2 linked regions of the Homo sapiens genome follow. The protein of the gene in region 2 purifies or fractionates together with the protein of the main gene of each other region. This does not show direct contact. Each region holds a gene or a part of one and is shown on either strand. Other genes may lie near its edges.

Region 1 (3,908 bases), on a different chromosome or scaffold from region 2:
CTCATTGACGTCTGTCAAAACAAGGGGATGGGCCCCACATGGTGGCTCACACTTGTAATCCCAGCACTTTGGGAGGCCGAGGCAGGTGGATCACCTGAGGTCAGAAGTTCGAGACTAGCCTGGCTAACATGGCAAAACTCTGTCTCTATTAAAAATACAAAAATTAGCCAGGCATGGTGGCGTGCACCTGAAATCCCATCTACTCGGGAGGCTGAGGCAGGAGAATCGTGTGAACTTGGGAGGTGGAGGTTGCAGTGAGCCAAGATCACGCCACTACACTCCAGCCTGGGTGACGGAGCAAGACTCGGTTTCAAAAAAAAGCAAGGGGATGAGAATGAGGGGAATGAGGGGTGAAACAGGGGCATGACATCCCCTGAGACTCATGTTCTCAAACTCACTGTGTGGCGGCTGAAACATCAGGGAGGTGACCCCCAGCCCTCACCTTCAGCCATGACCCTGGGCTACATCCTGACCCCGGACTGAACCCTGACACTCAGCCTGAGACCCCCATCTCTGTCCCAGGCTTGTAGAGCGCTGGCCATGCCCAACCTGATGCCCTTCCCCCTGCTTGCGCTGGACTCTGCATGTTCTCAGGAGAAGGAAGTGAGTGAACTCCTGACCCTCCATCCTTCCTGTCTGCTGGTAACTTCCTCCGAACCCACACAGCAACTGAGAACATGGGTCTCAGGGAGACCCAGAGTACGCATGGTGAAGCGCCTGCTCTACCGCTCGTTCCCCATCCCCTTGCTTTGACAGATGTCAGCGAGGCAGGGCTGGCTGGAGTCCACCGGCCACTGAGGAGCCAGGACTGGGTTCCAGTCCTGCCTGCTGACCCACCAGGGGCCCTAGACCAGCTCCTTCCCGACTCTGAGCCCCAGTCTCCCGACTTGTCCTGTGGATTCCCTGCCTTCCCATATTTTCCAGGCTCACAGCAGGGTTTGGAGGTAGACTGAGGGTAAGGGTGAGGTCCAGACCCCCTGTGCCCGGTACGCAGTGTGTTGAATGAGTAGAAGCCTGGAGGCGGTGGGGCTGGTGCTGACATGGAGAAAGGAAGAGAGGAGGCTCCACACTAGGAACAGGAAAAGTCATGGAAGCTGGACCCAGAGGAGTGAGAGGGAGTTAATGAGGCTGGAACATCAAGGAGGCCTCCCTGGAGGAGGTGAAGGAGGTGAGGAGGCTGAGTGAGGCTAGAGTATCAGGGAGGCCTCCCTGGAAGAGAGGGCAGGAGACAGTGAGTGCGGCTGTGGCACAAGGAGGCCTCCCTGGAGGAGGTGAGAGGGGACAGGGAGTGGGGCTGTGGCACAGGGAGGCCTCCCTGGAGGAGGTGAGAGAGGACAGAGAGTGGGGCTGTGGCATAAGGAGGCCTCCCCAGAGGAGGTGAGAGGCTGTGGCATAGGGAGGCCTCCCTGGAGGAGGTGAGAGGGACAGTGAGTGGGGCTGGAGCTTCGGGGAGAGCTTGGAAACCAGACAGCATAGGAAGGAGGAAGCCAAAGCTGGGAACACCCTCCAGGACCCGCCAGGCTCCTCCCAGCAGGTGGCCCACCCCTCCGCCCCTTCCCCTCACTCCGCATGCCTTGTTTTTCCCTCCCGAATGTAAGTTTCATGAGATTAGGACGCTCATCTGCCTTGTCTCCAAAAGATCATCAGTGCCTGGCATGTGATAGGAACTCGATAAATATTTGTTGAATAAATGAGTGGTTGCCATAGTGATCGTTACAGCCCTGTCCCCATTAGACAGATGAGAAAGCAGCCTCAGAGAGGCAACCCCAGCAAGCCTCAGGCCCCAGCACATATAACAGAATGAACTCCAGAGTCAGGAGCTCCTGCTTTTTGGCCCTAGGCAGGGACTACGGGACTCAGAGCCGCCACAGGCAGAAGCCACAGGCTGCCCGGGCCCATAAAATTTGCGTATTTCCTTGAGGTTGCCATTCCAGCAAGAGGCCATCCTCCTTTACCCTTGAACACCTTTCCCTGCTTTTCTTAGATAGGTAGAGGGAGGCCCAGCGGGTGGGGATGGGCCCGGGGTCACCCAGCAAGTCGGGGCAGAAGGTTTCCTGTTCCAGCCTGAGCCCTGTTACCCGGTTTGGCGCCCAGGCTCTGAAGCCAGGCAGCCAGGCTGCACCCTTTCCTGGCTGGGAGCCCGTGAGCAGGTGGCTTCGCCTCTGTGCCTTGGGTTTTCCTCGCCCGCAAGATGGGGTTCTAGCGGGCCTCACCTCACCGCACGTGGTGAGATGCTGAGGAGGGAACGCCCGTAAGGCGCTCAGAACAGTGCCTGCCACTAAGGAGGCCGTAAAAGTGAGTTGTTGTTGTGCGGCTGCTGTTGTGATTGCTCGGGACACGCTGAGGCCCAGATGGATGCGCGGGCGGGCGGAAGGCGGCCGCGAGGGCTGACGTCAGGCTCCCCATCCCTCCCTCCCGCCTGGATCAAATTCAGGTGACTAAGCGCGTCTGCGAGGGAGGCGGCCGGCCGGGGAGGCCCGAGGTTCCTGCCGCGTGTCCGGGAGACAGGGCCTGGCGCCCCGGCCGCGTGTGTGAGGGCGTGTGTCCCCACAGGAGGGAATATGTGTGCGCAGGCTGTGGACCAGGGTGGTGGCGTGTGTGTGTGTGTGTGTGTGTTGTGGGTCCCCACACAGGAGCGCACTGCATGGAGATGAAAACCTCGGTGTGATGTGTGTGTGCGCAGGTGTGTTTATGCGCCTGTGTGCCTGCAGGTCTCCGTGTACCTATGCCCAGGGTAGGGGGGTGGTCCGCGCCCCTGGGGGCCCTGGGAGCCTGATCCCAGAGCTCATATCTGGACTTTTCCCCATAGTCACTGGTCCCACCAGCCTGGCACTGCCTGCTGGGCTGGATTCTGTGCCCCGGGCGGAAACCCAGGCCCATCTGGAGGCTCACACAGGGGGTGTCTCAAGGCCCTTCCCAAGCTCAGGCCTTAGTAGATACTCTGTAGAAACTTAATTCGGTGGATAACTAGGGCCATGTGGGCAAACAGAAAGATGGACAGACAGGCCGGGAACCAGGCCCATGGTACAGCGAAGGATTCCTGTGGGCATGGGCACTGGCTTAGTCCTGCGGCCGTGAACAGCCAGACTCAAGCCCTCCCTCATTGGGAAAAACTACTGCAATCCTGTCCCCCCAGACTGGGGATCTGCTGCCTCGGACAAGTCATCGAGCCTCTTGGAGCCTCTGTTTCCTAACACGTGCATCAAGCAGAAGGCCACTGTCCTGCCAACTCCCAGGGCGATGGAAGGAACAGAATGAGGTGTGGACACAGGAGTAGTTTGTGCCACAGCACTGTGGGGCTGGGATGTGGCTGTGTCTAGAAGCGTCCAAGAGAGCCTTGATGTGCAAGGTCCAACCCCACCTCTGCCCCCAGCTCCAAGATGGCCTGGCACATATCCCCCACCCAGGTTTTTCCTCCCAGGCTGTGCCCCACCCCCCAAGCGTCTGGCCACTCCCAAGGAATGTGGGCCCCCGGCTCCAGACGCCCACTTGGCCTGGCTTCTTCCACAGGACATGCCCCATCCAGCTGCATCCCTCAAAGGAGCCCCAGAGCAGGCAGACCCTGCTGCCATCCACGCGGGTTCAAGTAGCTCCACCTGGGAGCTGGTCAGGCCCTGGTCAGGCCTCATTCTGAGCGCTGGAAGGCCGCTGTGAACCCCAGTGCCAAGCCGAGGCAGGGGACCAGCTACATCCAGGCGAGGGGATGGACAGCCGTGACCAGCAGAGGACCGAACAGAAGGGAAAGCCGCAGAGGTGGCGGCCACCCAGGCCAGACACAGAAGGTGGTCCTCCCATGCCTGGGCCGCCTCACTGGAGCTGTGTTTATGATCCTGGCGAGTATCTGGATGGCCCTGGCAACGGGTGCCCTCCGCAGCTCCCGCCCCCACCCGGGATGACTCAGTCCCCTT
Region 2 (3,908 bases):
AAGCTTCATGTGCAAGTCCACAGGCTCCCCATTGAGCTCAATGTCTACCTGCAAATGGAAAGCGGTGGCAGGGACATGGGCCTTCACGCCCATGCTTCCGACCACAGGCCTCCTGGCTGGTCCTCCAGTGGCTCCTTGCCGCCCCAAACACCATACTTGCTGGGGTTCCCTCCCTCCGGACCTCAAGTGCCTGGCTGCTCCCCACGAAGGGGGGCTCTGCTGCATCTCCCCTTCCTCAGAGAGGCCTTCACTGAGCTCCCTACCCATCTCTCCCTCACTCACACTGCCCCACTGTCTGAGCCTCATTGTACTTGTCACTGTCTCGGTCTTCTTGTGTATTGCCTGGTTTCCAAGTTCTTCCCTCTGTCTCTCACATCCATAAGAATAGGGACGTGGTCTCTCTTGTGATCGCTGTGTCCCCAGCCCCCAGGTTATTGGCTGCATAAACAATGGTGGGAATTTTAGTGTACTGGCCCTTTGTGGAGTGTTTTCTATAGATTATCTCATTTAATCTCTGCAACCCCTTGCAGTAGCTCCTATCATTACCTCCACTTTACAGATGAGGAAACTGAGGCTTTGGGGGTTTGAGTAATTGGTTAGGAGGCAGCCTCACAGCAAGTGAGCTTATGAAGCCAAAAAGGCTGAGTCTACAACCCAAGCTACTAGCCTCTTAGATATACTATTTCCCATAGGCTACACTTTTCTATTAGGATCCTGGAAACGTCACAGTTGCCTCAGTGTGAATCTTGATTCACACCCTAGACCTTGCTGCTAACAAAAATCTCTGCTGTGCTTGCCTGAGCCCTGTGAAGGTGGAATGGATTTATTTATTTATTTTTATTTATTTATTTATTTTTTGAGACGGAGTTTCGCTCTTGTCGCCCAGGCTAGAGTGCAATGGCACAATCTTGGCTCACTGCAATCTCTGCCTCCTGGATTCAAGCGATTCTCCTGCCTCAGCCTCCGGAGTGGCTGGGATTACAGGTGCCCACCACCACACCCGGCTAATTTTTCTATTTTTGGTAGAGACTGGGTTTCACCATGTGGGCCAGGCTGGTCTCAAACTCCTGACCTCAGGTGATCCACCAGCGTCGGCCTCCCAAAGTGCTGGGATTATAGGCGTGAGCCACCATGCCCAGCCTGAAGTGGATTTATTAAGAGAGAGAAACTAACATTTGAGTGTTTCCCACATAGCTGGCCCTGAGACAGTATTATCAGTTGCTATTGACTTGTCCCACCAGCATCATTAGGCCGATAAAATCATATCCATTTGTGCAGGTGAAGTAACTGGGCTCAGAGGCATGAAGTGACTTACCAAGAACACACAGGTAAGGTCTTAGTAAGCTGAGCCAGGTCTGACGGCCCCAGCACTGGGATGAGCCCTACTGGTCTGTTTCCATGAGAAACTAACTGTGAACCCTCCCAGACCAAAACCCCCAAATCAACCCAAAAACCTTCAAAGAAAGTACAAATGAAGGGAAGCCTGTCCAGAGGACAGATCCCCACCTAAGGGAGGCCCCAGGTCCTGTCCTGGGACTGTAGTGGCTGCCCCAGCTTAAAAAGCCCACTCTGCAGTAGCCACCTCAGCCAGCCTGAGCACTCACCACCTTCTCCCGCGACCGCAGGACGCCCAGCTTGCCAAAACGCACGTGGAAGGGTGAGCACCGGAACGAGCCGTCCACCTGCTTCACCACCAGCACGTCAATGCCGCCGCTCAGTGTGGCTGGGTTCAGGCCCCGGTACAGCTCCTTCACCGTCCCAAACACCGTCTCCGCCAGCTGCCCCACGTAGTTCATGGCTGGTGCTGGCAAAGAAAGGCAGTGGCTTGCACAAAGGTCTGCTCCAGCTCCTCCACAAGAAGCTCCTGCAGCCTGACCACACAGACCCCCAAGTTTACATTTGTGTCACGCCTTGGAGTGCCTTTGCACAGATGGCAGCAGCTGTGCGATGGGAGGTACACCTGTAGATGTGGGTCTAACCCCAGCTTGCCCACTGCCCTGCTAAGGGACCCTTGGGCAGCCGCCTCCTTCCCCAAGTGCCGATGTCCACATCTGTAAAATAGGGCACAAGGTAAAACAATACCCAGTTGCCTCGTGCCTCTAAATGCCATGACTAATGATAATGACCACAGTGTTCCGTGGGTACGGCTCATTTCATCTTCACAACAACCCTGTGGGGCTGGCTGAGCGGGTGTCATTATTCCTGTTTACAGATGAGCCAGCAGAGGCTCAGAGAGGTGGAGTGACCTGCCCAGAGCCTCATAACTATGAAGGAGGGAACCTGAGATCTGAACCCAGGTTTGTGTGGTTCCACTGGGATGGTCCAACTGTGAAAACGGAGGGGGTGGGAAGAGGGGGCAGCCTCATTAGATAGCAGGCCCAGGGCCCTGCTGGATAATGGGTGACTGTGCTAATGAGTACTCTTCTTTTCCCAAGAAGTGGGAACGAAGGAGCCTCCACTTTTCCATCTGAGAAATGGGCTCAGCTGTCTTGCTATCTGCTGGTCCTGTGAGTTGGAAGGTGTCTTGCTGGGCGATTGTAGCTGACTTATGGGGGACCAAGGGTGGGAGCACCCCAGGTACTCAAGGCTCTGTTCAGCCCCATTCCTGGGGTCAGATGCTCAAGGCAGAGCATCCCCTATAGCTGGGGGCTTAAGGCCCCAAACTACAAATTCCTTCCCAGTTTCCCTGGTGGGAAGCCTGTCCATGCACAGCCTGACCCCAGCGGTGTCCAGGCTATAGTTCTCAGACCCCAATTTCAACCCTAACCCCAGCTCCTCAGACCAGGGCTGAGCTGGCTAGGCGCTCAGACCCACAATCAGGCCTTGGGCTGGCCTCAGCCCACTGAAGCTGCTCCCTCCCCCAGCCAGACCGGTCTCTCCAGCTTTCCCACACCAGACAGGCCTGGGTAAGCCCAAAGCAGGAGGCTGAGGCGGCCTCAGAGAAAAAACAGGGCTATGATGAGAGCCTCCTCCAAGCTGGCACAGTGCCTGCCCCAGCAGCTTCAGGTGATCACCCCTGCCCTCCTGGCCAGGCCAGTGGCCTGCTGCCCCTCTGCCTGCCAAGACCCAGACTGTCCTATCTCTACAGAGCACTTTCTTCTCTCAGACCCTGGGTCAGAACCCCTGGAGGACAGCCTGCCATGCAAGACCACTTAGCAAAGAAGCTAAGTGACTTACCCAAGGTTAAGTGACTTTACAGGTGAGGAAACTATTCAAGCTCTTCTAAGCTGACAGGCCATAGAAGGGGTATAGGGAGGGGAGAGAGGGAGTAAAGACTCATATCCAGCTCTCCTGACTCTAGAGCATGGTCTCCTTCCACTCCATGCTTCCAAACCACCCAAGAGTTGGTTGCATGGCCCATGGCCACTTCTGCACAGCCCTGCAATGCCCTGCACTCAAAATGTGGTATGCACCAGCAACAAACATCAGCATCAGCATCACCTGGGAGCTTGTTAGAAACAGAAACTTAGGCCCAACTCAGCCCTACTGAATCAGCATCTGCATATTTTTCTTTTCTTTTCTTTTCTTTTTTTTTTTTGAGACAGGATCTCACTCTGTTACCCAGGCTGGTGTGCAGTGGCACCAAAATGACTCACTGCGGCCTCAACCTCCCAGGCTCTAGTGATCCTCCTGCCTCAGCCTCCTGAGTAGCTGGGACTACAGGCATGTACCACCATAACTGGCTAACTTTTAAATTTCTTTTGTAGAGACAGGGTCTCACTATGTTGCCCACGTTGGTCTCAAACTCCTGGACTCAAGTGATCCTCCCACCTTGGCCTACCAAAGTGCCGGGACTACAGGCGTGAGCCATTGCACCTGGCCTAGCATCTGCATTTTAACAGGATCCCGAGGTGATTCCTGCAGCCTTTCATGTGTTTGAAAGGAACTGCTTTTGTGTTCCCAGTCCA

What was found.
Region 1: the proteins of LPIN3 (region 2) and CAMKK1 purify together in Homo sapiens (affinity purification with mass spectrometry; 2 studies listed by BioGRID and IntAct, with this or other methods). This does not show direct contact.

Annotation. Positions count from the first base shown.
Region 1 is NC_000017.11:3,886,320-3,890,227, forward strand, and holds part of CAMKK1 (calcium/calmodulin-dependent protein kinase kinase 1), read right to left. Parts: intron 1-3,908. UniProt on the Homo sapiens protein: Calcium/calmodulin-dependent protein kinase that belongs to a proposed calcium-triggered signaling cascade involved in a number of cellular processes. Phosphorylates CAMK1, CAMK1D, CAMK1G and CAMK4. Involved in regulating cell apoptosis.
Region 2 is NC_000020.11:41,343,692-41,347,599, reverse strand, and holds part of LPIN3 (phosphatidate phosphatase LPIN3), read right to left. Parts: intron 1,805-3,908; 5' UTR 1,797-1,804; coding exon 1,605-1,796; intron 49-1,604; coding exon 1-48. UniProt on the Homo sapiens protein: Magnesium-dependent phosphatidate phosphatase enzyme which catalyzes the conversion of phosphatidic acid to diacylglycerol during triglyceride, phosphatidylcholine and phosphatidylethanolamine biosynthesis therefore regulates fatty acid metabolism.